7 linked regions of the Homo sapiens genome follow. The protein of the gene in region 7 purifies or fractionates together with the protein of the main gene of each other region. This does not show direct contact. Each region holds a gene or a part of one and is shown on either strand. Other genes may lie near its edges. The genes, in order: WRNIP1, NUP155, NUP88, SMPD4, IPO7, RANGAP1 and NUP107.

What was found.
Region 1: the proteins of NUP107 (region 7) and WRNIP1 purify together in Homo sapiens (affinity purification with mass spectrometry; one study listed by BioGRID). This does not show direct contact.
Region 2: the proteins of NUP107 (region 7) and NUP155 purify together in Homo sapiens (affinity purification with mass spectrometry, with the first as the bait; one large-scale study listed by BioGRID). This does not show direct contact.
Region 3: the proteins of NUP107 (region 7) and NUP88 purify together in Homo sapiens (affinity purification with mass spectrometry; 2 studies listed by BioGRID and IntAct, with this or other methods). This does not show direct contact.
Region 4: the proteins of NUP107 (region 7) and SMPD4 purify together in Homo sapiens (affinity purification with mass spectrometry; one large-scale study listed by BioGRID and IntAct). This does not show direct contact.
Region 5: the proteins of NUP107 (region 7) and IPO7 purify together in Homo sapiens (affinity purification with mass spectrometry; one large-scale study listed by BioGRID and IntAct). This does not show direct contact.
Region 6: the proteins of NUP107 (region 7) and RANGAP1 purify together in Homo sapiens (affinity purification with mass spectrometry; one large-scale study listed by BioGRID and IntAct). This does not show direct contact.

Annotation. Positions count from the first base shown.
Region 1 is NC_000006.12:2,771,739-2,775,968, reverse strand, and holds part of WRNIP1 (ATPase WRNIP1), read right to left. Parts: intron 3,032-4,230; coding exon of another isoform or gene 2,971-3,031; exon of another isoform or gene 2,918-2,970; intron 1-2,917. UniProt on the Homo sapiens protein: Functions as a modulator of initiation or reinitiation events during DNA polymerase delta-mediated DNA synthesis. In the presence of ATP, stimulation of DNA polymerase delta-mediated DNA synthesis is decreased.
Region 2 is NC_000005.10:37,304,913-37,309,142, reverse strand, and holds part of NUP155 (nuclear pore complex protein Nup155), read left to right. Parts: coding exon 1-14; intron 15-1,710; coding exon 1,711-1,846; intron 1,847-3,932; coding exon 3,933-4,086; intron 4,087-4,230.
Region 3 is NC_000017.11:5,386,271-5,389,165, forward strand, and holds part of NUP88 (nuclear pore complex protein Nup88), read right to left. Parts: intron 2,691-2,895; coding exon 2,532-2,690; intron 1,683-2,531; coding exon of another isoform or gene 1,635-1,682; coding exon 1,509-1,634; intron 1,401-1,508; coding exon 1,335-1,400; intron 1,197-1,334; coding exon 1,116-1,196; intron 841-1,115; coding exon 714-840; intron 557-713; coding exon 438-556; intron 71-437; exon of another isoform or gene 1-70. UniProt on the Homo sapiens protein: Component of nuclear pore complex.
Region 4 is NC_000002.12:130,171,414-130,175,643, reverse strand, and holds part of SMPD4 (sphingomyelin phosphodiesterase 4), read left to right. Parts: intron 1-643; coding exon 644-730; intron 731-1,987; coding exon 1,988-2,130; exon of another isoform or gene 2,131-2,134; intron 2,135-2,289; coding exon 2,290-2,365; intron 2,366-2,748; coding exon 2,749-2,857; intron 2,858-2,966; coding exon 2,967-3,019; intron 3,020-3,143; coding exon 3,144-3,295; intron 3,296-4,230. UniProt on the Homo sapiens protein: Catalyzes the hydrolysis of membrane sphingomyelin to form phosphorylcholine and ceramide. It has a relevant role in the homeostasis of membrane sphingolipids, thereby influencing membrane integrity, and endoplasmic reticulum organization and function.
Region 5 is NC_000011.10:9,425,895-9,430,124, reverse strand, and holds part of IPO7 (importin-7), read right to left. Parts: intron 1,586-4,230; coding exon 1,496-1,585; intron 1,360-1,495; exon of another isoform or gene 1,171-1,359; intron 1,095-1,170; coding exon 929-1,094; intron 452-928; coding exon 291-451; intron 1-290. UniProt on the Homo sapiens protein: Functions in nuclear protein import, either by acting as autonomous nuclear transport receptor or as an adapter-like protein in association with the importin-beta subunit KPNB1.
Region 6 is NC_000022.11:41,279,219-41,283,448, forward strand, and holds part of RANGAP1 (ran GTPase-activating protein 1), read right to left. Parts: exon of another isoform or gene 3,569-4,230; intron 2,426-3,568; exon of another isoform or gene 2,324-2,425; coding exon of another isoform or gene 2,239-2,323; intron 1,995-2,238; exon of another isoform or gene 1,865-1,994; coding exon of another isoform or gene 1,827-1,864; coding exon 1,715-1,826; intron 1-1,714. UniProt on the Homo sapiens protein: GTPase activator for RAN. Converts cytoplasmic GTP-bound RAN to GDP-bound RAN, which is essential for RAN-mediated nuclear import and export. Mediates dissociation of cargo from nuclear export complexes containing XPO1, RAN and RANBP2 after nuclear export.
Region 7 is NC_000012.12:68,724,613-68,728,842, reverse strand, and holds part of NUP107 (nuclear pore complex protein Nup107), read right to left. Parts: intron 3,117-4,230; coding exon 3,047-3,116; intron 2,345-3,046; coding exon 2,226-2,344; intron 1,493-2,225; coding exon 1,454-1,492; intron 1-1,453. UniProt on the Homo sapiens protein: Plays a role in the nuclear pore complex (NPC) assembly and/or maintenance. Required for the assembly of peripheral proteins into the NPC. May anchor NUP62 to the NPC. Involved in nephrogenesis.

The sequences.
Region 1 (4,230 bases), on a different chromosome or scaffold from region 7:
TCCAAAGGTAGAATACAATAAAAAGAGGTAAAATCTATTCTGGGGATAGACTGCCCAAAATGTCATAACATCCTACATGGAAATAAACAATAGGAAGTAAATTATGTTGTTATAATAAAACACTATTTATAATAAGGGAAAATTGGTTAAAATAAATGCATTGGAAAAGATTCTATTTCTAGTTAACAAAACCTAGAGATAGAAACAGACTTAAGAGAGCTTGGCTTCTCCAACTGATGAGAAGGGCTTTAATTTTAACAGAAGAATATAGGAAGCTCTCTTCTTTCCTCTTCCAGGTGCCTAAATCCTGAAGCTTTCTACACATTGGGTAATACTGGAATTTGGAGGATACTACTTAGACAGCTGGATATGTAAGTTGGAGAAGGAGTGCAGTAAGTAAAAATGTACCTGTTATTTCAAGGCAGAATGAAAGAATATGCATGGCTTGGTTAAACTCTCCCTCTCTAAATTACAAACCAAACCCCACAAATCTCTTCCACTAAGGAAAAGGAACATTTCATGGTCAGGGTGATAACTGCTGTGTAGAAGTTTCAACCAGGGATATGCATCAAGTTAGACACAAATACAGCCACATGTACCTTACCTACCATAGACTGAGCTCAAATCTCCAGGGGCAGACCCTGGGCAAGGCATGTTTCTAAAATGTATCCCAGGGAAGTGTGATGTGCAGATCTGGTTAAAAGGCTCTCCTGCTGCTCTTACACAAAGAAGTGCCAAGAGAGAAAAGTCAGAACAGAAAAACCGAGCAGTGGGTCCATCCTCTGTAAACTTGGCACCTCCACCCCTTGTAGCACTTGAAGTCACTGAGAAGACAGAGACATGCCTTAAACACTGGCTCCATCACATTGAAGCTGGTTGGTCTTGGGCATGTTACTTAACCTTTTTGTGCCTCAGTTTCCTCATCTAGTAAATAGGAGGTAATGAGATCTACTTTGCAGAGCTGTATTGAGGACTGAATGAGATTAAGACATGTGGAATGCTTAGAGCAGTGCCTGCCATGTCATGAGACTCGACAAATACTGCTTTGGTATCAACAGCGAGGAGAATCACCCTCATCAGACTGTGCAACAGCATACTCTCCAGAACTGCACATATCCAAGGCAGAGCCCCAGATGCTGCCGCTTCCATAACATCAGAGTGAAAGCAAAGCAAAACAAAACTGACTTTCTCCACAAAGAGAGAAGGTACATTTCAGATGACGACGTCTTTCTGTTTAATCCCATGGAGGCACATGTCTTTCCAAATTACATTATACTTGGTAGGGGTCTGTAGTGGGTTGAATAGTGACCCCAAAAGATGTAAGTCCTAATCCCTGGAACCTGTGACTGTGACTTTATTTGGAAATAGGGTCTTTGTAGATGTAACTAAGGGTCTCAAGATGAAATCATCCTGGATTTAGAGTGTACCTTAAATCCAATGACAAATGTCCTTACAAAACACAGAAAAAGAGAAGACGTAAGGACACAGAGAAGAAGGCCACCATGTGAAGATGGATGTAGAGACTGGAGTGACATAGTCATAAGCCAAGGAATGCCAAGGGCCATCAGATGCTGGATGAGAGCATCGCCTTGTTGATACCTTGATTCTGGTCTTCTGGCTTTCAGAACTGTGAGGATAAAGCTCTGTGTTCTGAGCCACCCAGTTTGTGGCAATTGTTACAGCAGCCACAGGAAGTGCATCCAAGGACCATGAGATCTGTGGTTCTGGCTGCTGGTGCTTTTATGGCATTATTTTAATGCACCCTTGTATTAAAACAGCTATGTTAATGTACTGTATTAATGTACTTAAAAAATTTTTAAATAAAAAGATTGACATCTACTCTATACCAACCATTTATTCTGGCCAATCCCTTGTATTCTGGAGTTCCACTACCTTTCTTTCTATTCAATGGCACAAAAGGTTATTTAAGACACTTTAAACTTTTATAAAAAGAAGAATCCATAGCCACCTTGTTTGGGGGCCAGCTTGTCAGGGGCTCTCCTCTCCAGATGATTAGAGAAAAGCCCCACACCCAGTTACGCCACAGCCCTTACCCAGGGACAGACGCCACTTTCTGTCTTCCAACCACCTCTCGGAACTCAGCCTAGCTAGGCAGAGGGCAGTTATGGCTTCTCATTTCACTCTCTTGATCTCCAAAGACTTGTATACTCTATCTGGTTCACAAATAATTGATTCTTTAGGAGTGTTTTTGACTATGTATATATTCTATGACCTAGGAATCTATATTCCTTCAAAGCAGCAAGTAGTGCAGGATGACGAAATGCTAGCTTACTTTTTCATTTTCAGCAGCACAAGCTCATTCTTCGTATCATGAATCATGGACATTTTTTTCCTGGCCTCCAAAATTAACCCAGAGCAGACAGAATCTTCACTGTTTGTATCATGTGATCCAAATATTTTTGGGAGAGCAAAATACCTGAACACTACTGCTTAGCCATACAAACCAAAGCAACTATGGCGTAGACAATGAGCTTTCTATTTCACTCAGTTAAATTCTGCTTATCCTTCAAAACTCAACTCCGCATCCCCTCATCTAGGAGGTGAAATACTGGATTTCACATATTCTGAATGCTGCTTCTCTACGCCCACTGCACTTGGCGTATAAGCGTGGCACTGGAAGTGGACCTGCTCCCCTAGCCTTCATCATACTGCGCTCCCTCTGAAGGCACAGGAACAAGCTTTTCAACCCTCAGCCAATGCCTAGCATATGCAGGAGCTTCAATTTTGACTGAATAATAACTACAGGAGGGAATTTTTTTTTAAAAAAAGAACACTTATTTCACTTTAATGGGAATTTATCACTTACATGAGTATACTGTGTGACAACTCACAATTCCTCAAGTGCAATCAAGAACGGCTAAGCGGCAGCTTGATTAGTTTCCAAATCCAGTGCCCTGCTCACCTCCTCTCACGTGCAGTTCAACAGCCTGGGACTTCTCTGTAAATGTTCTAGTTGCTATCTAGGGCACCAAAACATGACACAAGAATACAAATGCACACCAATAGCTTCCTGGAGAGAGAAAGTAAGTATATGGGGTTGGAAGTCTTTTCTTTCAACTAGATTAGTGTCACCAAATCTGATTTATATGCACAAGGATGTATATAGAGCTGTCAACAGGGATTGGAAAGCAAAATTTTACCTAAAACAACTAAAAGACATCCCAATCCACTCTTAATTATCCCTGACAGTTGGGGTGGCAGGTACTTGTATTCGGAAATCACTTGTAAGAGTTCTTTCTGTGGCCTATGATATCTCCTAACTTAACTTCTTGTTAGAATTGCTAACAAGTTGACCAATTAATGGTTTTAAGCTTAACATTCTTTCATTTTACTCTGCTTGCTGCTGATGAAAAGGGCAATAGTATTAAAGAAAAAGGCTCTTGATACCTGGGTAATTATCCCTTATGCTGGATAATGCAAAACATATTAAACTACTTTTCTCATATCGAAAGCTAGGATTTATTCATTTCCAAACCATTCACAAAGCACATAATGTGTGCCAGGCACTGTGCTGGGGATATGAACAGGGACAAGCTCCTGTCCTCACAGTCTTCCCAGGAAAGCGGGGGACACAAGATAGCAAATATAATTGGGATCAAGTCTAAGCAAGCGGTAGTGGAAATAGTAAATCATTTACTGGATATGGGAAGTTTTCTCTGAAAAGCAATTTTAGCAGATAAACAATCTCTAGCTCATTGTTATATCAGTTTCAATAACTAAATCTTAATTATTTCACTTGATCTTCTCAAACTTTAATGTGCCTGCAAATCACCTGAGGATTTTTAATAATAAAATATAGAAATTCTTCTCACAAGGATGAGCTCCTTGGCTGCCGCCTTTCTCATTTCCTTTAAATTCCTGCACGGCAGTGACTGGGGAGAGGTGAAAAAACCTGAGGGTATCTGAGTAACAACTGATTATTATTGACTTCATGTCATCAATATTAATTATTGATTTCATGTTCTATTTCATGAACTGATGACATGAAATCAATAAAAATCACCCCAGACAAGTACACATGCAGAATATTAAGTTGCAGATACATTACGATAACCAGTACACAGAGCAAAGAACACACAGAAACATGAAACATGTTAGGATTTCCCCCCTTTTCTTTCAATTTGTCTTTACCATGTGGTTCTATGCGTCTGTAATGAGAATTCTGTTACGGGAAACCTACACATGAGTATCCCACATCTGAAGTGCCTG
Region 2 (4,230 bases), on a different chromosome or scaffold from region 7:
TCAGTATAGACAAGGTGAGAAATAAAATGTTTCTTGTATCTTTTACTCAACTCAAAAGACAAACAATAGTGTATGAATGAAGCAAGCTAATGATGAAAAGCCACTTTCCAGATGCAAATCTTCTTTCAGCATCAGAGGCCGAGTGAAAGGACGTAGGAATGTGGTATCATTGTGTTGCAATATTTGATGACTACACTGACCTGCAGAAGCTGTAATGTTCTTTCTATTTTTTGAAATGTACTTTTTTTTTTTTTTTTTTTTTTTTTTGAGAGTCTCGCTCTGTCAGCCAGGCTGGAGTGCAGTGGCACGATCTCAGCTCACTGCATCCTCTGCCTCCCAGGTTCCAGCAATTCTCCTGCCTCAGCCTCCCGGGTAGCTGGTATTACAGGCGCACGCCACCACGCCCAGCTAATTTTTTATTTTTTTATTTTTTTATTTTTTTTATTTTGAGACAGAGTCTTGCTCTGTCACCCAGGCTGAAGTGCAGTGGTGCGATCTCAGCTCACTGCAAGCTCTGCCTCCCAGGTTCACGCCATTCTGCCTCAGCCTCCCAAGTAGCTGGGACTACAGGCGCCTGCCACCATGCCCGGCTAATTTTTTTGTATTTTTAGTAGAGATGGGTTTCACCATGTTAGCCAGGATGGTCTCAATCTCCTGACCTCATGATCCACCCACCTCAGCCTCCCAAAGCGCTGGGATTACAGGTGTGAGCCACCGCGCCCGGCCATTGCCCAGCTAATTTTTGTATTTTTAGTAGAGGTGGGGTTTTACCATGTTAGCCAGGGTGGTCTCGATCTCCTGACCTCAGGTGATCCACCCATCTCAGCCTCTCAAAGTGCTAGGATTACAGACATGAGCCACTGCGCCCAGCCGAAATGTATAACTTTTTAGCATTAGAGTTTCAGTTCTTGTCCAGTTCAATTACTGTATGTTTTACATTGCTTTCTGGATTACATTTATTTTTCAGATATTTAAAATTTTTTATTGAGTTTTAAGGTATAATCTGCTTACTTTTTAAAAAATTACTTTAAATCAAATCTAACATAATGTAAAGGCCATAACTATTTGCACAGGTATTATTTTGAATCCCAAGGTATTTTTTTCCCCCCAGTAGGGAACTAAAACTTTCCTTTTTGTTATTTGAAATAGGATCTTTTTTTTCCAATGAAGAAATATATATATATATATATTTTTTTTTTTCCTTTTTCTTTTTTTTTTTGTGAGACAGAGTCTTGTTCTGTCACCCAGGCTGGAGTGCAATGGTGCAATCTCAGCTCACTACAACCTCTGCCTCGCTAGTTCAAGTGATTCTCCTGCCTCAGCCTTTTGAGTAGCTGGGATTACAGGCGCATGCCACCAGGCCCAGCTAATTTTTGTATTTTTAGTAGAGGTGGGGTTTCACCATGTTGGTCAGGCTGGTCTCGAACCCCTGACCTTGTGATCTGCCCCCTCTCAGCCTCCCAAAGTGCTGGGATTACAGGCGTGAGCCACCACACCTGGCCCCCAATGAAGAAATATATTTAACAGTTGCCTTTTAGGCATATTAAGACCTTTTCCTTCTGAAGACCTATCAGAAATATTTTATGTTAGCAGGGTGACTATTGTACAGTAGAGACATAACCTTGATCATTATTTTCATGTGCCAGCTAAGGAAAAATGTATCCAACTTAGTAGTAAGTCATAGGTCTTCATTCTTTTCTTTCCCATCAGTGAGATTTTATGAGGGTGTGGTGGAACTTTCTCTTACGGCTGCAGAGAAAAAAGATCCTCAAGGTCTTGGGCTTCATTTCTATAAACATGGAGAACCAGAAGAAGACATAGTTGGACTTCAGGCCTTCCAAGAAAGGTGCATTCCATTACGTTAGCAGATTGTCATCTTTATGGATACAGACTTTTCTTTGCATAATGTTTTTTGTTTTTTGTTTTATGTTTTTTTTTTTTTTTTGAGACAGAGTCTTGCTCTGTCACCTGGGCTGGAGTGCAGTCGTGTGATCTTGGCTCACTGCAATCTCTGCCTCCCAGGTTCAAGCTATTCTCGTGCCTCAGCCTCCCATGTAGCTGGGATTACAGGTGCACACCACCACGCCTGGCTAATTTTTGTATTTTTAGTAGAGACAGGGTTTCACCATTTTGGCCAGGCTGGTCTTGAATTCCTAACCTCAAGTGATCCACCCACCTCAGTCTTGCAAAGTGCTAGGATTATAGCCATCAGCCACCGTGTCTGGCCTCTTTGTGTAAAGGTCGACCACCCAAAGTGCTGGGATTACAGGCATGAGCCACCATGTCCAGTAGGATTTCATTTTAAAGGATAATTTTTAAGTATTCCCAAATTTGTTGAGACTGTTAAAAAGGAAATGTGTGTCCTTAAAAGAAATATAGGCCAGGCACAGTGGCTCACGCCTGTAATCCCAGCACTTTGGGAGGCTGAGGTGGGCAGATCATGAGGTCAGGAGTTCGAGACCAGCCTGGCCATCATAGTGAAACCCTGTCTCTACTAAAATACAAAAATTAGCCAGGCGTGGTGGTGCACACCCGTAATCCCAGCAACTTGGGAGGCTGAGGCAGGAGAATTGCTTTAACCCGGGAGGCAGAGGCTGCAGTGAGCTGAGATTGCACCACAGAACTCCAGCCTGGGCGTCAGAGCAGGGCTCCGTCTCGGAACAAAGAAGAAATATATAACCTTTCTATAACATATATATATGGAGGGTGTTTTGTTTTGTTTTTGTTTTTGTTTTTGAGACAAAGCTTCACTCTGTCTCCTGGGCTGGAGTCAGTGGCACCATCATAGCTCACTGTACTCTTGACCTTTTGGGCTCAAGTGATCCAGTGATCCTCCTACCTCAGCCTCCTGAGTAGCTGGGACTACAGGCACATGTCACCACACTCGGCTAATTTTTTTTTTCTCTTTAATTTCTGTAGAGACAGGGCCTCACTATATTGCCCAGGCTGGTCTTTAACTCCTGGGCTCAAGCAATCCTTTCTTCTCAGCCTCCCAAAGTGCTGAGATTAGAGGTGTCAGCCACCACATCTGGCGAAAACATATTTTTTTATTACTATATTTAATGACTTTACCCTTTTAATGTTTAACCAAACACTTCTCAAACTTATTGAAAAAGTATATGGTTTGTATTATTTTAAATGCCAAATATGTACATCTATTCTGCCAAATAGTCTTGAAATCCTTGTATATACTTAGGTAAGGTAAATCAATGGCTTTCTTTTTTGTTATTTGTTTTGTTTTGTTTTTGGGGGGTTTTGTTTTTTGTTTTTGAGACAGGGCCTCATTCTGTTGCCTGAGCTGGAGTGCAGTGGCATGATAATAGCTCACTTGCAGCCTTGAATTCCTAGGCTCAAGCGATCCTCCTGCCTCTGCCTCCCAAGTAGCTGGGATTACAGGTGCACACCGCCACGCCTGGTTAATTTTTTGTTTCGTTTTGTTTTGTTTTTTGTTCGTTTGTTTTTTGAGACAGGGTCTTGCTGTCACCCAGGATGGAGTGCAGTGGCATGATCTCAGCTCACCTCAACCTCTGCCTCCCAGGTTCAAGCAATTCTTGTGCCTCACTCACCTGAATAGCTGGCACTACAGGCATGCACCACCAAGCCCGGCTAATTTTTGTATTTTTGTCAGATACGGGGTTTCACCAGGTTGGCCAGGCTGGTCTCAAATTCGTGACCTCTGGCAGTCCCCCTGCCTTCGTCTCCCAGAGTGCTGGGATTACAGGTGTGAGGCACTGTGCCCAGCCAATTTTTTTGTATTTTTTGTAGAGACGTGGTCCCGCTCTGTTGCCCTGGCTAGTCTTGAACTCCCAGCCTCAAGCCGTCCTCCTACCTTGACTTCCCTATGGCTGGCATTACAGGCGTGAGTCACCACACTTACCATCATTTGCTTTCTAGTTAAATAATGTAATTGTTCCTTTTCCATTTTCTTTCAGATTAAACAGTTACAAATGCATTACAGACACACTTCAAGAACTGGTAAATCAAAGTAAGGCCGCTCCTCAGTCTCCCAGTGTACCCAAAAAACCTGGTCCTCCAGTGTTGTCATCTGATCCAAATATGCTGAGTAATGAAGAAGCAGGACATCATGTAAGGGACATAGTATATTTTCATTCTGAGAATACACTGTTTAGAAGTTCTCCATGGTAATGGTAGCACAGTCATCTTGGGGAAAGGTGGTAGTTCTTAGAAGTTATCATGTAAGGATTCTTGATTTCTTACTGGAGTTTATAG
Region 3 (2,895 bases), on a different chromosome or scaffold from region 7:
TGTAAAATTGTAAAGTCACTCACTTTTGGAATTATAATAAACCATTTATATGGATTCTTAAGAATTTAAACTGGTAATGTTGAAACATCTAAGAACTGCTTTGCTAAAATTAACAGCTGAAGGTTTCAGGTGGATAGCAATAGTGTTCACTATTCATTTAAGGTGGCAAACGGTGCAAGTACTGGAAATATTTTTGAACATAATTACTGTAAAATACCTTTGGCCACACAACAAAATCATGTTACTAGAAGGTCATCCCTTTCAATCCTCCCACCATAGTCATTTCTTAAGTCCCTATGTATCATGTGGCTCTCATCCCAGTAATTACTTGACATGCAAATACCAAGATTCAGGTTTCTATTAAGACAGGTTGATTCTGGCATACTGTAAAGGAAAAACTATCTCACGATAATAGCTGATTGGAAGTATTTACTTACTCCTCTTTCAGGATGGACTGAATGCACTTTCGCTGGTAGGCACTGAGAATAATGGTGGGTTTTGGAAGACTCAACACCTTCTCCATCTTTTGCTGTTGATAATCCTTTTTCATAGTAACCTTAAGTATTAAAATAATAGATATTTTGGCAGTGGTTTGCCACACATTTTCACAGTATCTATTTGAATCTGTTCTTTTTACATTTTTGTAAAATTTTCTGTAGAATAAGTGCTTTAAGAAAAATTACCAAATTTAGCTAGTTTGGATCTATTCCTACCTGTTTGATGGCATTGCCCAAATGTCGAAGTTGATCAGGTATCAGCTGTAATTCTTTCTTCATGTCTCGCTCACTATCAGAGAGAACTGGGAGCTCAGAGTGAAAACTGTGAAGTAGTTTTTTCATCCTTTAGAAAAGGCAAGCAAACATCTCAATTTAAGGTCTCTACTAATTAGGAGAAACATAATCACAAGCTCATAATTCATGAATCTGGTGTTTCTGAAGTAGGCCCCATAGGAAGGGTTAGGGGAGAGCCTCATGTTTTCCCCAACATATACTTCAGAGGAGAGGCAGGGGGATCAGTTCAGTTCCGTAGGTATGTAAGCACCTGCCAATGCCCATTTTCTTAAATATCGTTGTTAGTACCTGACTAGGTAACTAAATGTTATACAGCCCACTGACCTGTTCATGATATCCTCTTGTTTTTCTTTAGCTTCCTCATATTTGTCAGCTAAACGCTCAGCCATTTCCCGCAGACTTTTCCTAATGATGTAAGACACAAGAGACTCTTGAGGTCCACCCCTTGATGCTGAAACCACCTAATGTGGCTCAGCATCTTAGGGTGAGAATATGGTTCCAGTCTTACTGACCTATTGTATTCTTCTTATTTTTGACACTTACCTCTCTTCTCGACAATAACTGAGATCTTCTAGTTGTTTCTTTTTTTGGTCACATAATAATTTGACCCTTTAAAAACAAAAAGAAATAGAGTTTATTCAGAAGCCAGGTCTAGGCTACCATACAGCATCAGCTACCAGCCAGGGATCGATGGTTTGTGAACACAGGACATCATACCTCCGCTGAATCTCCTCCTTTGCCAAGTCCTGTTTGAGAATGTACTGCTCTCTGAACACCTGGGTGGCTCTGCTGAGGAGCTGAAGGCATTCTTCAGGAGGAGGGGCTATGTCCTTTTCAGAAGCTCTTAAAAACAAAGTTTCTACCTTTATTTTCCTTAGCTGAGTAAAACAACTGAAAATAAATAGACTCAAGTCACAGGTGCTTTTTAAACTTTTTATATTTTTAATTTATTTATTTGAGATGCAGTCTCGCTCTGTCACCCAGGCTGGAGTGCATTGGTGCTATCTCGGCTCACTGCAACCTCCACCTCCCAGGTTCGAGCAATTCTTCTGCCTCAGCCTCTCGAGTAGCTGGGATTACAGGTGCCCACCACCACGCCTGGCTAATTATTGCATTTTTAGTAGAGACAGGGTTTCACCATGTTGGCCGGGCTGGTTTTGAACTCCTGACCTTAGGTGATCCGCCTGCCTGGGCCTCCCAAAGTGCTGGGATTACAGCTGTAAGCCACCGTGCCCAGCCTAACTTGAGACGAGTCTCACTGTCGCCCAGGCTGGAGTGCAGTGGTGGGATCTCAGCTCACTGCAACCTCTGCCTCCCAGGTTCAAGCGGTTCTCCTGCCTCAGCCTCCCAAGTAGCTGGGATTACAGGCATCTGCCACCACACCCAGCTAATTTTTTTTTGTATTTTTAGTAGAGATGGGGTTTTGCTGTGTTAGCCAGGATGGTCTCGATCTCCTGACCTCGCGATTCACCCGTCTTGGTCTCCCAAAGTGCTGAGATTACAGGTGTGAGCCACCACGCCCGGCCTAGCCTAACTTCTTTTTAAACACTTCCTGTTTATCATTCTCAGGTGCCACTTCCCTCCTGCTCCCCATTCACTAGCTGATCAAATATATCCAGTTTCTTCCAAATTTATCACAGTAAAAAGTATATGAAACAGATGAGGACAGAAAGGATGCACAGTAATTCTGAAGACAGAAGAGAACCCATTCATAAAACCGCTATGCCCAAGGTTGCATACTTCAAAAATGCTGGATTGGCAACACTACGTTGCAAAATGCTTCTAATATGCTTTTCAAAGGAATCTGGGGTTTCAGCCAGAACACGGAGGGGAGACTCTGCCACTTCAACATCTTCTCGAGTACAAAGCAGGGGAGGAGACGCTGGATGGACTGTACTTCTGCAAAATAAGTAAGTAAATTGAATTCTACCATGGAGTGATTTACTGTATTACAGGAAAGCAGAAACCACATTAATCCAGAACTTTCAGAATATAAAATAAAGTGTAACTTTTGTAAAAGTGCAAGAATGCATGTTTTCCACCTTGAAAAGGTCACTTTGGGAAGCTACACCCTTATTATTCCAATGCCCCTGATTTGTGAAAG
Region 4 (4,230 bases), on a different chromosome or scaffold from region 7:
ATTTCATTAGTCCTTGTCCTGAGTCTTTTCTGGCCTCTCCATTGCCTTCATGATTAGTGTCTACTTGGCTGAAGCCATCTATAATTTTTGTCTGCCCTGTGTTTTAAGATCATTGGTTTAGTGGTTCAGTGTCTACCGAATAAAGGACAGCTCATTTAAGAGAGCTTCTGCCATAGCCGTGATGTTGTTGGGCGTTCTTACTGATGATCACAATGGTGTAATCACGGTGGTCCATCAGGCTGGAAATTTCCAGTTGATGCGTACAAACTCAGTTATACTCTGTGGTTTGTGAGGGGTGCCCTTACACAGTCAAGATCCTCTTCTGGCTGTGGGGCTGACTCTGGGACCAACCCCTACTTATGGATTGGTGGAAGTCAATCCTGTTCTGATCATGTGCAGCACTCTGAGGGGGTACTGGGAAACAAGGCTGATAGTTCCTGGTCCAGAGAGCATAGAACTACGGCCTCTCCTAGTAGTACTCTTTGGGCCACTGACACACATGAGGGGCTGGGGAACCAGGCCAGAGGTTATGGGTCTGACTCATAACCTATTGCTTGGATTTCTGTTTGACTCAAGCCAGAGTGCCACTAAAAGCTGCAGAGTGAATGTCCTCGTGACTTTTTCGCTTTGTTCTGTCTTCTAGGCTAGCCTGAAAGCTGACTCTATAAATAAGCCCTTTGCACAGCAGTGCCAAGACTTGGTTAAAGTCATTGAGGACTTTCCAGCAAAGGTATAGCTCTGCTAACGTCTCTCTTTGGAGCATGTCTTATACATTCGTTGAAGAACTTTATTATAATTCCTAATTTCCCTCCCCGCCCCAACCCCGAGCACTGCCTGGCACAGAGGCCTGGCCATTACCATGACCATTATGTTTACGGACACATTTAAACATGTGAACTTGTAGATCAGGGGTTCTCAGCCACAGATGCTCTGTTCCTCAGGGACACTTGGCAATGTCAGAGACATTTTTGGTTGTCACATCTGGAGGTAGATGGGGAGTGTGTGCTACTAGCTTCTAAGAAGTAGAGGCCAGGGTTGCTGGAAACATTCTGCAAAGCACAGGACAGCTCCCTGCGACAAAGAAGTATCTAGCCCAAAATGTCAACAGCACCAAGATTGAGAAACCCTGATGTAAATACTAAAAATATGTATTTAAATCACACCTGGAATTGTCAAGCCCAGGAAGCTGGCCTAGACAAGGAGTTAATACCAAATGGCAATAGGTCAGTTAGGTTTCAGGGGCTTCACTCTGGAAAGGATGTTGCTTTCCTTTCTGATAGAGCATCCTTCAAGTCAGAAGTTTCCATCACTGTTTAAAGAATCTTTTTTTTGTGGTGGCTCATGCCTGTAATCTCAACACTTTGGGAGGCCGAGGTGGGAGGATCACTTAAGCCCAGGAGCTCAAAACCAGCCTAGGCAACATACTGAGAACCTATCTCTACAAGAAATTTAAAAATTAGCTGAGTGTAGTGGTGTGTGCCTATAGTCCCATTTACTCAGGAAGCTGAGGTGGGGGGATTGCTCGAGCCCAGGAAGTCGAGGCTGCAGTGAGCCATAATTGCGCCACTGCACTCCAGCCAGGGCAACAGAGTGAGACCTTGTCTCAATAAATATGTATTTTGTTTATTTTTTTATTTTATATTTTTTTATTTTCATTGTTTGTTTTTTTTTAAATTTATTTATTTTTCTTAATTTAATCTTCTATCACACACAAAAAATGTATTTTGATCGGAGGCTGACTTACTTAACTGGCCCAAGTCTAAAGCAACACTGCTTGGTATGCCATGTACCCCACTGGAAGAACGTAAAGCTGCTCTTGTCGTTGGCACCATGGCACCAGGCTTCCTTTGGGTGCAGGGCTGATCCCATAGGTCTTAGCCAGGGAGTGGCTTCCTCAGAGGGAGCTGGGCAGCAGGTGGTGCAGGACTAGAGCCGGGGCAGGAGTGGGTGCTGGTCCTGCACGCGGCTTCACCACACATTGTTTCAGGAGCTGCACACCATCTTCCCATGGCTGGTAGAAAGCATTTTTGGCAGCCTAGATGGTGTCCTCGTTGGCTGGAACCTCCGCTGCTTACAGGGGCGCGTGAATCCTGTGGAGTACAGCATCGTGATGGAATTTCTCGACCCTGGGTAGGTAGGTTGGTCACCGGAGAGAGGCTGGGTGATTCCTCATGGTGATTCCACCTTTAAAGCACTCTCTGAATTTCTCAAGATTAAGAAACAATCAAAGCAAGATAATTCGCAGTTCATTTGCCCTGTTTTTGTTTGTTTGTTCAATTTCGTGTTCAGTGGCCCAATGATGAAGTTGGTTTATAAGCTTCAAGCTGAAGACTATAAGTTCGACTTTCCTGTCTCCTACTTGCCTGTAAGTAAACCACAGTGGCGAGAGTGGTGCTCGGGGCAGTGGGCCTTGCACAGCCCTGTGGTGATGGGCAATCTCCTCCAGTCCTCTGAGGGCAAATTGAGGAGCGATTCGTTCCAGGGGTGTGAGAGGCAAAGGAAATGGGTATTGCATGACTGCTACCCTTGCTGTCTGCAGCTCTTTATGAGATGATGGTAGGAGAAGTTCTAAGCAAAGACTCTTGTTCAGGCACTGCTCAGAGGCAGGGCACTGTCCCCACAGGTGGGTTCTGTGTGTGGGTCTCTTCCCCAGCAGCCTTCCCAAAGTGCTGCTGTGCATGTGGGGTACTGCGTATCGGGCACTACGCACCAGCACCTGCCCACAAGCCTCACTGCCTCTCTCTGCAGGGTCCTGTGAAGGCGTCCATCCAGGAGTGCATCCTCCCTGACAGTCCTCTGTACCACAACAAGGTCCAGTTCACCCCTACTGGGGGCCTTGGTCTGAACTTGGCCCTGAGTATCCTTTGGTGGCCCTGAGGTAGGGAGGCTGTGGGTGGCCCAGCACTTGACACTGAGCGGGGGGTGGCTCATCAACCCTGCATGTTTGCCCCTGACGCTGCTCTCAGATCCGTTCGAGTATTACATATTCTTCTTTGCCTTGAGCCTCATCACTCAGAAGGTAAGGAAGGGATGCCTTTTGCTGGGAGAGGTGGGGCCACGGCCCAGGGCTTCCCTGCACTTGTTGGTGCTTGGTGGCCTGGCAGTGTCCAGAGCCCATGCTAACAACTAGCTTGGTTTTCCAGCCACTTCCTGTGTCCCTCCACGTCCGTACTTCAGACTGTGCCTATTTCATCCTGGTGGACAGGTACCTGTCATGGTTCCTGCCCACCGAAGGCAGTGTGCCCCCACCACTCTCCTCCAGCCCAGGGGGGACCAGCCCCTCACCACCTCCCAGGTAAGGCTGCCCTTTGTTAAGACCTGGCCCTTCCATAAGGGAGTGGCCTGGTCACTTGCATCGCCCACGGGGACAATGTTGCCACCCTTTGTCCACGGTTCCCCAATTTTTCTTATGCCTCATTCCCCATCCCCAGCTGTCTTAGCACAGACTGGAGGGTGGGGTATGGCGGGCAATCTGTCCTTAGTGTTCAGTGTCTTTGGCCATCACTGAAGCTATCAGGTCCCTGGAGGCCTCCACGGCCTGCATGGGAATGGGCTGTGTTGTGCATGGAGCAGCCGTCCCCACAGGCGGTGTCTGAGTCAGTGAGCAGGGTGGAAAGGTTGTCCTATGAGCAAAAAAAATAGGAATCTCTATGGGCCCCAGGAGCAGATCTTGAAGGGGAGGCCCTGGGCCAAAGAGCCTGTTTTGTCAGTCCAAACAGGCTGAGCCTGATGCGTGCCTGCACAGGTTGGGAGTGTGAACCAGGGGCTCTCATGCCTGGCTGTCCTGGGTCCTCAGTGGGCACTAACGCAGGCCGACTTCCCAGGAGACCCTCTTGCCCCAGCAGCAGCTGCCTGTGCACCTCTGACCCTCTTTAATCTCACTGGCCCATCGCCTTCCCCAGGAAGCTGCATGCAGGCCCCTTCCTGCAGATGCTGGCCCACCCCAGATCTGCTGGCATGTGTAAGGCAGGCCAGGCCTTTACCTACAATTCACGTGTGGACAGATTCCCCAGAGGGTGGAGGGGAGAAAGGGAGTGGCAAGGAGGAGACGCTGCCCAGGTAGCGGCAGTGATCAGTGACCCTGAAATGTTGCTGATCCTGTGGAGGACTCGGAGGTGAGGCAGATTCACACCCTCTTAGATGCAGAATTCAGCTGCCAAGCAGTTTTTGATGCCTGGTTTTTTTGCTTGTTTTAACTTTTTGGGTTGTTTTAATTTTTTCTATTAGAAA
Region 5 (4,230 bases), on a different chromosome or scaffold from region 7:
GCCGGAAATTCTCACAGGAGCGTGAACCCTACTGTGAAATGTGCATTCAAGGATCTAGGTTGCACACCCCTTATGAGAAACCATTGCCTGTCTGATAAGAGGTGGAACAGTTTCATCCCAAAGCCATCTCCCCCGGACCATCTGTGGAAAAATTATCTTCCATGAAACCGATCCCAGGTGCCAAAAAGGTTGACTGCTATAAGGTAAGGCAAGCCACTGGTGACACAACCTGGAACATACTGAGAGCTACATTAAAATGCTTGCAAATATGGTAGGTTCAAACAACATACCAAATGTTGTGTCATTTCTACTGCAATAGGAGTAACTTCTTCACTATATTCACAGATCATTTTCTGAATTACATTGGTAAGGTCATCATTTTCTGTTTCTCTTATAATGTGAAGAAGAGCCTGCATTACAGGTCTGATGAATGGTGTGATATATTCTTTAGCTGTAAGAGAAAGAGTAAAAAACTTGCGTAAAACCCCTAAAACTTCTTAAAACCTGATATAACAAATATCGATGAGTTTTTTAAAAAAGTACTTTCACATAAAAAGGAAGTATGCCAAGTTTCTAGGATTATGGCTTTTTACAATTAATATATATATATATATTTTATAAGAGGCAGGGTTTTGATCTGTTGCCCAGGCTGGAGGGTAGTGGCAATCGTAGCACACTGCAGCCTCGAACCGTCGGGCTCTAGTGATCCTGCTGCCTCAGACTCCCAAGTAGCTGGCACTACAGGTACATGCCACTATGTCCAGTTAATTTTTAAAAATTTTTTTTGTAGAGATGTTGCCCAGGCTGGTCTTGAACACCTGGCTTCAAGCGCTCTTCCCACCTAAGCCTACCGAAGTGCTAAGATTACAGGTGTGACCTACCGCACCTGGCCAACATTCACTTTTCTTGACATACAAAAATCCTTTACCTTTTTCTTGATTGCTGATCAATACTTGAAGGGCAATGGCAGCTTCCACTTTCACAGGCATTTCTCTATCATCAATCAGACATCTTCTTGTTAGCTCTAAGGCTGTTTGAAGGTTCTGATCACTTTTGAACTTCACTTCACAAAAATAGTGAAGTACCCAGCAAGCCTTTTGTAAAAACACAGTGAGTTACTGTAGATACCTTACCTTAAATTCCCCCAAGCTAATCTCTATTCCCTGAGTTCTGTGTGTGGGAATTTGGAGGCTGGCCAGTGGTAGATGTGTCCAGAGACAACACTAGACCAGTACTATGATCCCAAGTTACTCTTTGGCCGCATGATGTTTGTGTGGATAGCAAGATCTGAATGAAAAACACAGACAGACACTGCTACCAGACACAGATGAAACCTATGCACACATTACAGCAGCCATGTAAAGATTTACATTAAACAGAAACCTAAAATAAGACACAGGCTTCAAAGTGAACATTTAAAAGTTTCAATATAAAAGTCCACAGAGTCATTCATTACAAGACAAAAGTATATAAATAATGCAGCTTTAAAACATACCCTTGCTCTCATGTAGCCTAGTTCACTGCTGAAGAGAGGGAATACATGATTCTGCAACATGTATTCCATCTGATCTTTATAGATCTTTTTCTGTAAATATAAACAACAGTTATTTTGATACAGTTCCAAATATAATCATCTCAATTTCCAAACAGATATAACACTATTAAAAATGACTATTAATGTTACATATATTTATTCTCATTCTTTGAACCCCAGAATCCACAACCAATTTTCGTATTCCAGAACTTCACCACCAAAAACCACTAAACACATTTTCACGTTTTTATATTCCTTGATTAGAAAGCCATTATGCCAAATCTTACCAGCAATAGTGTTCGAATGATGTAAGTTTGGTTAATTTTATCTGTTACTATGAAACTTTTATAAGGAAAAAACTTGTCTGATAAAGTTTCTGGCTGAAAATAACATAACCTGAGAAAAATCCTGCTTTCAAACGAATAAACTGGCTATCTAAAAAGGCACACTCTTTTTTTTTTCTTTTTTTTTGAGACGGAGTCTTGCTGTGTTGCCCAGGCTGGAGTGCAGTGGCACAATTTCGGCTCACTGCAATGTCCACCTCCCAGATTCAAGTGATTCTCTAAAAAGGCACTCTCAGTATTCAAAGTGAGTATTTTCTAAGTGGAAAGAAGCTTTTTAGAAGAGTTCCTTAAACTGCACATTAAATCAACATTAAAAACATAAGACACTTATATATCAACACTTACATAATCAGACATGACAACTTAATGCAATGTGAGACCCTAGACTGGGTCATGGAACAGAAAAAAGGACATAGTGGGAAATCTTGTGAAACTTTAAAAAGGTCCATGGATTAGTTGATAGTAGCATACCAAAATCAACTTCATGTTTTTGATAACTTTGCCTACCTATGTAAGGTATTACCACTAAGTGAAGCTGAGTGAAAGGTAAGAATAGATAAACTTGAATTTGCCAAGAGAACTCACTAATTCTCAGCCTTCTATGCCACAAATGATTAGAATGTCTTTAATACATACTTTATAAACAAAGAGAAGGATGGGTGAACAGGTATAGAAAAGATGAAAGACGGCCGGGTGCAGTGATTCACGCCTGTAATCCCAGCATTTTGGGAAGCCGAGGCGGGTGGATCACCTGAGGTCAGGAGTTCGAGACCAGCCAGGCCAACATGGTGAAACCCCATCTCTACTGAAAATACAAAAATTAGCTGGTGTGGTGGCAGGTGTCTGCAGTCCCAGCTACTCGGGAGGCTGAGGCAGGAGAATCGCTTGAACTCAGGAGGTGGAGGTTGTAGTAAGCAGAGATCACGCCACTGCACTCCAACCTGTATAACAGAACGAGGCTCCATTTCCAAAAAACGAAAAGATAAAAGACACAATGACTAAATATTCTGTGAGTACTTAGTGCCTGGCTTTAGAATGTAAAGATTTCTAACAACTCAATTATAAAAAGACAAATAACCCAATTAAAAATGGGCAAGGGCCAGGCACAGTGGCTCACGCCTGTAATCCTGGCACTTTGGGAGGCTGAGGCAGGCGGATCACCTGAAGCCAGGAGTTTGAGACCAGCCTGGCCAACATGGCAAAACCCCATCTCTACTAAAAATACAAAAATTAGGCTGGGGGCAGGCACCTGAGGCATGAGAATCACTTGAACCCGGAAGGTAGAGGTTGCAGTGAGTCGAGATTGCGCCACTGCACTCCAGCATATGGCGGGGGGGCGGGGAGGCGGAAATCTCAGCTACTTGGGAGGCTGAGGCAGGAGAATCACTTTAATGTGGGAGACTGGTGGCTGCAGCGAGCCAAGATCTCACCACTGCACTCCAGCCTGGGTGACAGAGCAAGACTCCATCTCAAAAAATAAAAAGAAAAAAAACAAAGGCAAGCAATTTTTTTGGGGCAAGGAATTTGAATAGATATTCTCTAAAGAAAATATACAAACGGATAGTAAGCACATGAAAAATTTCAAAGCCACAAAGACATAATGCTTCACGTTCACTAGGATGGCTATAATCAAAATATACTGCTGGCAGAAATATAAAATGGTATAGCTACGTTGGAAAATGGGTTCTGCGGTGTCTCAAATTATGACAAGCAATTCATACTCCTAGGTATATACCCATGAAAAATGAAAACGTATGTCCACATAAAAATTTAAACATGAATGTTCACAGCAACATTTGTAAGCAGCCAGAAAGTAGAAACAACTAATGAATGAGTAAATAAAATGTGGTATATTAATATAATGAAATATAATTTGGCAACAAAAAGGAAAAAGTACTGAAACCTGCTATAACACAGATAATCCTTGAAAACATTACACTAAATGAAAGAAGTCACCCACAAAGAGCTACGTATTATATGATTCCATTTATATAAAATGTCCACAATAAACAAATCCATAGAAAAAATGTGGACTATAGGTAGCCTAGGGTTGGGAGATTTGGGGTGATATGTGGAGTGACTGCTAATGTATACAGAGTTCCTTCTGGGGGTGATAGTTATACAACTGTGAATAAACTAAAAACCACTGAGTTGTACACTCCATAAGGTTGTTATTTTTTATTTTTTTATTTTTTTTTGAGACGGAGTCTCTGTCGCCTGGACTGGAGCATGGAGTGCAGTGGCATGACCTCGGCTCACTGCAGCCTCCGCCTCCCAAGTTCAAGTGATTCTCCTGCCTCAGCCTCCTAAGTAGCTGGGATTACAGGTGCCCACCACCATGCCCAGCTGATT
Region 6 (4,230 bases), on a different chromosome or scaffold from region 7:
CCAGTACTTTGGGGGCTGAGGCGGGCGAATCACCTGAGGTCAGGAGTTCTAGACCAGCCTGTCCAACATGGTAAAACCCCATCCCTACTAAAATACAAAAAATTAGCGGAGCATGGTGGTGGGTGCTTATAGTCCTAGCTACTCAGGAGGCTGAGGCAGGAGAATGGCGTGAACCAGGGAGGCAGAGCTTACAGTGAGCCGAGATTGCACCACTGCACTCCAGCCTGGGTGACAGAGCACGACTCCATCTCAAAAAAAAAACAAAAAGAAAAGAAAATTAGCTGGGCATGGTTGTACACACCTGTAGTCCCAGCTACCCAGGAGGCTGAGGCATGAGAATTGCCTGAACCCAGGCAGAGGTTAAAGTGAGCTGAGATTGCACCACCACACTCCAGCCTGGGCAACAGAGCAAGACTATGTCTCAAAAAAAAAAATTAGCCAGGCGTGATGGTGTGAGCCTGCAGTCCCAGCTATTTGGGAGGCTGAGGCAGGAGAATCGCTTGAACCTGGGAGACAGAAGTTGCAATGAGCCAACATCGCACCACTACACTCCAGCCTGGGTGGCAGAGTGAGACTCATCTCAAAAAAAAAAAAAAAAGCCGGGCACAGTGGCTCACGCCTGTAATCCGAACACTTTGGGAGGCCAAGGTGGGCAGATCACCTGAGATGAGGAGTTCGAGAGCATCCTGACCAATATGGCAAAACCCTATCTCTACTAAAAATACAAAAATTAGCCGGGTGTGGTGGTGGGCGCCTGTAATCCCAGCTACTCAGGAGGCTGAGGCAGGAGAACTGCTCGAACCCGTGAGGCAGAGGTTTGCAGTGAGCTGAGATCGTGCCACTGCACTCTAGCCTGGGTGACAGAGACTCCATCTCAAAAAAAAAAAGTGATAAATGCACAGGGAGGAAGTCTATAAACGTTAGACCTTATGGAGATGTTAGGAACATGCATCAGCACGCTCCCAGCTACCCAAGGACTCAAGCAGCCTCCGACCTGGAGAGGAGAACAAGGCTGCCTACACAACATGACAACCAGGCATGTCCAGACCAGTTCCCCTGGTTGGGCCAGAATCCCAGGAGGCCTCACTTGATGCAGGTGCCTTCACTTGCAGGTGCCAGGTGATTCAGGGTTGGTCAGTGGCAGCCAAGCCTTGACAAGGGATGAAAAGACAGGGTCTGCTCTCTGGTTCCTAGTTTTCTGTGGTTGCAATACCTGTATACACACAGACAGCCATCCCTCTCCCAGGTACATCTGGTTGCATGAACCAGCATCTCCCAAGAGGGCCCAGGTTGTTTTAATGCAGCTCCACCAGAGCCTCAGCTCTGGGGAAAGCTGCAGCTATTCCCAGGCCTGCCTGGGATCATGGGGGTTAAGGGCAAGGGTGGGGACAACACCGGATATTAAGTCAGAGTCAGAGGCTGTATCTTGGGACTGGCACTAACTGTGGCCCCTCATTACCTATCATCCCCTCCTGAGAAAGAAAGGGCAGGGCACAAAGGGATGCCCAATACAAACATGGAAAGTGCAGGGGAGCTTGCTCCTGGGCAAATGATCTCTGAGCCTCATTGTTAGAATAGGCCCAATGATACCTCACAGAGCTGCTGGGACAAATAATGGAGACAATGTAGCAGAAAGAGCCTGACAACCAGTAAGAGTTCAGTACACTCCCTCTCCTCCCCTGGACACACCAGTGCACAACTTCCAGAAACTCACCATCTTCTGCAGTGTTGAGTTTGAGGCTCTTGCCTTTGAAACTCAGCTGTCCCCCGGCCACCTGAGTCTTGGCAAGTGTCTCTGCCAGCTTGGCAATGTCTTCCGAGGCCATGTTGACTAGGCTGGTGGGCTCCCCTGGAGATCTGCAGACTGAGGAGGCCAAAGTTGCAGTAAGAAAAAGGAGTCTCCTGGGGCCCCTGGTTGGGGGCAGGGTAGGACATCAGCCATCTCAGGAGTCTGACCCTACCTCCCCTGCTATGGAGACCCTAGAGATAAATCACTGGAAGAAAGGAAAACAGCATCAGAGAAGGAACAGTTCTAGAAGGTGCAGGAGGTAGTAAAAGAACAGAAAAATCATGTCTTAGCCTATAAGAAGCTACCATCTCATTACAAGTCCTCCTCTGCTAAACTGCCGCAGCTGGACACCCAGCAACACCATGTGAGCTGCCCATTTCCTGGGCCCCTTCAGTGAATGGCAGTCAAGTCCCAAACCAAAGGCTGCAGAGTCTGGCCCAAGCACACACCTGCTTGAGCATCTTGGCTGTTCTCTGTTTGAGGGTCCCATTCCTCAAACAGGACACAGATGGCTATGGGATCCAGATCATTCATCCCAGAGAATGCCCCACCACCCACGCTGGCATGACTCTGGGGTGGGGCACAGGGGTCAGCCCCACTGCACGTCTGGTTTCAACCGTGGCCGGGAGACTGGGCAGGCCACAATGGCCCCTCAGGGGTTTCTAGATCAGAGATCGCCACATCACAACAGCTACCATCATAATAGGACAGGGACAGGGCTGCTACCTATGAAGCCCTACTATACTCAAGTCTACCAGAAGATTTGGGTAGAAATGGGGTTGATAAGCCTCACTATTTATAAAATCAGGAGTGCTGGTAAAAGAAGTAAAGCTGGCCAGGTACAGTGGCTCACACCTGTAATCCCAGCACATTGGGAAGCTGTGATGGGAAGATCGCTTGAGCCCAGCAGCTCAAGACCAGTCTGGGCAACATGGCAAAATCCCATCTCTACTAAAAATAAATACAATTAGCAGGGTATGGTGGTGTGCACCAGTAATCCCAGCCACTGGGGAGGCTGAGGTGGGAGGATTGATTGAGCCCCGGAGACAGAGGCTACAGTGAGCCATGATCTCACCACTGCACTCTAGCCTGGGTGACAGAGTAAAACCCTGTCTCAAAAAAATAAAAATAAAAATAAAAATTAGCTGGGTGTGGTGGCACGTGCCTGTAGTCAGTCCCAGCTACTGGAGAGGCTGAGGCAGGAGGATCATTTGAGCCCAGGAGTTCAAAGCTGCAGTAAGCTATGACTGCCACTGCACTCCAGCCTGGGCAACAGCGGGAGGCTCTATCTCTAAAAGTAACTAAATAAATGAAAGAATTTTTTTTTTTTGAGACGGAGTCTCGCTCAGTCGCCCAGGCTGGAGCACAGTGGCGCCATCTGGGCTCACTGCAAGCTCCGCCTCCAAGGTTCATGTCATTCTCCTGCCTCAGCCTCCTGAGTAGCTGGGATTACAGGCACCCACCACCATGTCCAGCTAATTTTTTTGTATTTTTAGTAGAGACAGGGTTTCACCGTGTGTTAGCCAGGATGGTCTCGATCTCCTGACCTCGTGATCCACTCGCCTCAGCCTCCCAAAGTGCTGGGATTACACGCATGAGCCACCACGCTTGGCCAATAAATGAAAATTTTTAAAACAAGTAAAGCTTTGAGAACTCCTGCGCCTGCTCATGGTACTCCAGCTTTACTTGGAGTACATGTGAGATTAAATGTCTCAATGTGTACTGCCTATAAATTGAAGCCAGCTATATTAGACAGGAACGTGGAACATCACTACATACCTGAATAGTGTTTACTTTGTGGTATGAATAAACGTATCTGTGAGATGCTCCAAAAAAAGAAAAGAAACAGCAAGTAATCAGGAGAGACCAAGGAAGCAGATATGAGGGGCAGAACTAGGGGGTGCTATCCGAAAGGCCTCCTCCTACAACCTCCTCATTCTCAGATACAGTTGTGATACCCTGAATCCTCCCACCCCTAGGCTTCCTCTGGGTTCTAACTTATAACCCTGGTTTGTCTGCCTTTATCAATAAGCATGAATTATTATCCTGGGTAAGGTGTCCACTCATTCATTCAAAAACACATTGATTACTACTGTGTGCTGGATGTTGTTCCAGGTCAGCAGTATAGCAGTAAAGGAAGCATAAACCCTGACCTCTTGAAGCATATGTTCTAAATGACACATTTAGTATGTGATTTAAAAAAAAAAGGGGGGGGTTGGGGGGCCGGGAGTGGTGGTTCACGGCTGTAATCTCAGCACTTTGGGAGACCGAGGCAGGTGGATCACGAGGTCAGGAGTTCAAGACCAGCCAGGCCAACATGGTGAAACCCCGTCTCTACTAAAAATACAAAAATTAGCTGGGCGTGGTGGCACACGCCTTTAGTCCCAGCTACTCGGGAGGTTGAGGCAGGAGAATTGCTTGAACCCGGGAGGCGGAGGTTG
Region 7 (4,230 bases):
GTATTAACAGGTACAGTATAGTACTATAAACGTAGTTTCTCTTCCTTATGATTTTTATTATTTATTCTTTTTTTAACTTTTAAAAGTTATTTATTAATTTTTAAACTTAAAAAAAAAAAAAAAGACAGGTCCAGGCCGGGTGTCGTGGTTCACGCCTGTAATCCCAGCTCTTTGGGAGACTGAGGGGGGTGGATCATGAGGTCAGGCGTTAAAGATCAGCCTGGCCAACATAGCAAAACCCCATCTCTACTAAAAATACAGACAATTAGCCAGCACCTTTAATCCCAGCTACTCGGGAGGCTGAGGCAGGAGAACCGCTTGAACCTGGGAGGCGGAGGCTGCAGTAAGCCGAGATGGTGCCACTGCACTCCAGCCCGGGTGACAGCGCAAGACTCCGTCTCAAAAAAAAAAAAAAAAAAAAGACAGGTTTTCGCTGTTTCCCAGGCTAGTCTTGAACTCCTGGGCTCAAGCGATCCACCCACCTCTGTTTCCCAAAGTGCTGGGATTACAGGCGCAAGCCACCACGTCTGGCCTGATTGTTTTTTTTTTTTTTTTTTGAGATGGTCTCACTCTGTCACCCAGCTGGAGGGCAGTGGCGAGATCACAGCTCACTGCAACCTCCAACTCCTGGGCTCACTCGATCTTCCTGCCTCAGCCTCCCGAGTAGCTGGGTTTACAGATATGAACCACTGTGCCCTGCTAATTTAAAAAAATTTTTTGTAGTAGAGAGAAGGGTCTCCCTATGTTGCCCAGGCTGATCTCAAACGTCTGGACTCAAGCAGTCCTCTCGCCTCTGCCTCCCAAAGTGTTGGGATTACCGGTATGAGCCACCTCGCCGAGCCCCTTATGATTTTCTTAGTAATGTTTTCTTTTCTCTAACTTACATTATCATAAGAATACAGTACAGTTGAGCTTTGAACAACACGGGATTGAACTGTGCAGGTCCACTTCTGCATAAATTTTTTTCAACTCAACTTAGAAAATACAGTGTTATCTGGATGTGAAATCTGCAAATATGGAAGGCCAATTTTTCGTATATGCAGGTTCTGCAGGGCCAACTGTGGGACATGAGTATACACAGATTTTGTTATATGTGGGGGTCCTGGAGCCAATCCCCCAAGTATACTGAGGGATGACTGCATATGATACATGTAATATACAAAATGTGTTAATTGTGTGTTTATGTTATTGGTATGATTTCTGGTCAGCAGTAGGGTATCAGTAGTTAGGTTTTTGGGGAGTCAAAAGTTATAGTGAATTTTTGATTGTGCGGGGCGGTGGGGGTTGTTTTCCTAATCCCTGCATTATTCAAAGGTCAACTGTGCTGATAATTAAAAGATCTCTTATGGATTCTGATGCTTTCTTACCACTGAGAATTAAAATAGCATCATTCTGAGTTTTGTTTTCATTAAAATAGTAAAAAACAATCAGGTTGTAGGTTCTCAAAGTTTACCTGTATGTATGTCTTTAAAACTTCAATAGAAACTTCCTCCTTCATAGGAAAAAAAGACATAATTATAAATACACTGCTTATATGAAAGTAACAAAATTTTTGATACAAATTCCATTATTAAATAATTTAATAATTGTAATGTTTACCACTGAGCAGTAACTATACACCAAGCTAAGTGCTTACCAAAGTTCATCTACTGCCTGATTTAACCTTACCATAACTCTTTTTGGGTAGTTACTATTATTGTTCACATTTTACAGAGGATGAAATTAGGACCAAGGGAAGTTTTATTTACCCAGAGTTACACAGATAGAAGCTGCTGAATAAGGGTATATACTCAGGACTCCTACTCCAAAGCCCAAGCTTTCAACTACTGTATCATTCACTTTCTACATGCACTCTGACCAAAATGTTATCTTCTTTTTTAGAAAAAAAGCAACAAAACAACAACCAACAAAGTTTTAAAATCTCACATAGCACTCACTTTGTTTAGTTAGCTTAGCTGGTTGATTTAAAGCTGGGTACAGACAAGGATAAAGTTATGAATTTATTAAAAACCAGTTAACCAACAGCATTCTGTGGCCACAGACTAGAACCCTAAAGGGCCACTCTCAGTGAGTTATCATTGAGTGACTATACAAGACTATATGGAAGACTTTTGATTCCTTATCACCATTTCTAGAAAACAATAATAAAAAAAGTAGTGTTTTCTTGACAATAGGTATATAGCATCAACATTACAGAGAAGAAGAAATCGTTCATTTTTATATACCTTGGTCTGTAGTCCCAGAGTACGGAAAAACAAAATAAGGTGAGTCATAAAGCGAAGCAGGTGTCCAGGTAGATTGTTTCTGCTTTTGGAAAGCCATTTGCTAAACTCATCCATCAAACCTACAAGCCATCAAAGTGAAGATTCAACAATAGGAATAAAATCAAAAGAAAAAAATAAACATTACCAAGAACATTTATTTCACTCCTATAGTGCTTTCAAGTCACTGTCTCATAATTAATAGCCATGATATAACTCTACACCCTCTTTGAAACAGAGTTTGGGTTCAATCCGAACTTTATTTTATAAAAACCAAATGAAAGGTCACCTCTGACATAAAGTAAATAGTTGCATTCAAATAGGTTAATATTTATCAAGATTAAAAGATATGGTAAGTCACATGCATTGTTTGGATAACTTTAAAAAATCACTATAAGACAATGAAGAACTCATAAAGAGTAAAATAAAACTGGCTGGGTGCAGTCGCTCATGCCTGCAATCCCATGTCTATAACATATAGCACTTTGGGAGGCCAGGGAGGGAAGATCACCTGACGTCAGGAGTTGGAGACCAGCCTGGCCAACAGCGAAACCCCGTCTCTACTAAAAATACAAAAATTAGCCAGGCGTAGTGGTGCACACCTGTAATCCCAGCTACTCAGGAGGCTGAGACTGAAGGATCTTGTGAACCCAGGAGACAGAGGTTGCAGTGAGCTGAGACTGAGCCACTGCACTCCAGTCTGGGCAACAGGGTGAGACTTTGTCTCAAAAAAAAAAAAAAAAACACACACAAAAAACACAAAGTAAAATAAAACCATATCTTACCATCAATGTCTCCCAGGATAAGAAACTTTTGAACTATATGATAATGTTCTTGATTCTCTTCCAGAACTCTCTGAAAAAAAAGTTTTTAATTTTCCATAAATCTTCTAGCAGTCATTCTGTAGTATATATTCACTGTTAAACTAAAAATGTTAAACTTTTGAAGGAACATATAGAAAGAAAAAGCTGGAAATGAAGGGCCTTAGAAAGATCAAAACAAAATAAAACATGGAAAGGATACTGCCTTTGGAATATACTCACAGCTTACAAATCCAGAACTGAAAAGCATCTTTGAAAGTAGAGACCTATGTTATAACAATTTAATCTCTCAATGGTATTAAACTTTTATTCTTATATTTTATTCCTATTTACCTTGGCACTACACATGGTGGACGAGAAAGGAAGAACTCATGTGACCTAAGCAAAATAAACTATTAAGATTTCTTTCAACATGAGCAGCAGTACATGAAAGCATTCTTTGAGTATTCTCTTCTGTACATGGCACCAAGGGTGAAAAAAAAAAATAGTGATCAGGTACAGAGTAGAGAAAACCTTTTCTAACTTATTTGCAGCTTGATTTTTTGAAGAATATAGTTCATTTTTTGTTGTCAAACGTATTTTAATTTTTATTTAGTTGGCTGTCTAAATTTTCTTTCAGCATTTATTAATTTTTACATTCAAACCTTTGCTCTATATGGAATTTATTTTAGTTACATGGCATGAAGTAGGATCTAGCTTTGTTTTCTTCTGGATGGAAAGCCAATTATGCCAGCGCCATTTATTTAAATAAACCATCCCTTTCCCTCTGAAATGAAATGTCACCTCTGACATCTGTTAAGTTCTCATATATACTTGGATCTAGTTTGGACTTTGTGTTCCACTCATCTATTTATTTTCATGTCAGTTCTATACTGTTTTGTTGTATCTTCATATTAAGTGTTATTATTGAGTAAGGCAAGTACCCTCTAACTACTTTTTTTGCTTTCAGTGTGGTTTTTTTTGTTTGTTTGTTTGTTTTTGAGACAGAGTCTCACTCTGTTGCCCAGGCTGGAGTGCAGTGGTACAATCACGGCTCACTGCAGCCTCCACCTCCCTGGGCTCAGGTGATCCTCCCACCTCAGCCTCCTGAGAAGCTGGGACTACAGGAGCATGCCACCACACCCGGCTAATTTTTAAAATTTTTTTTG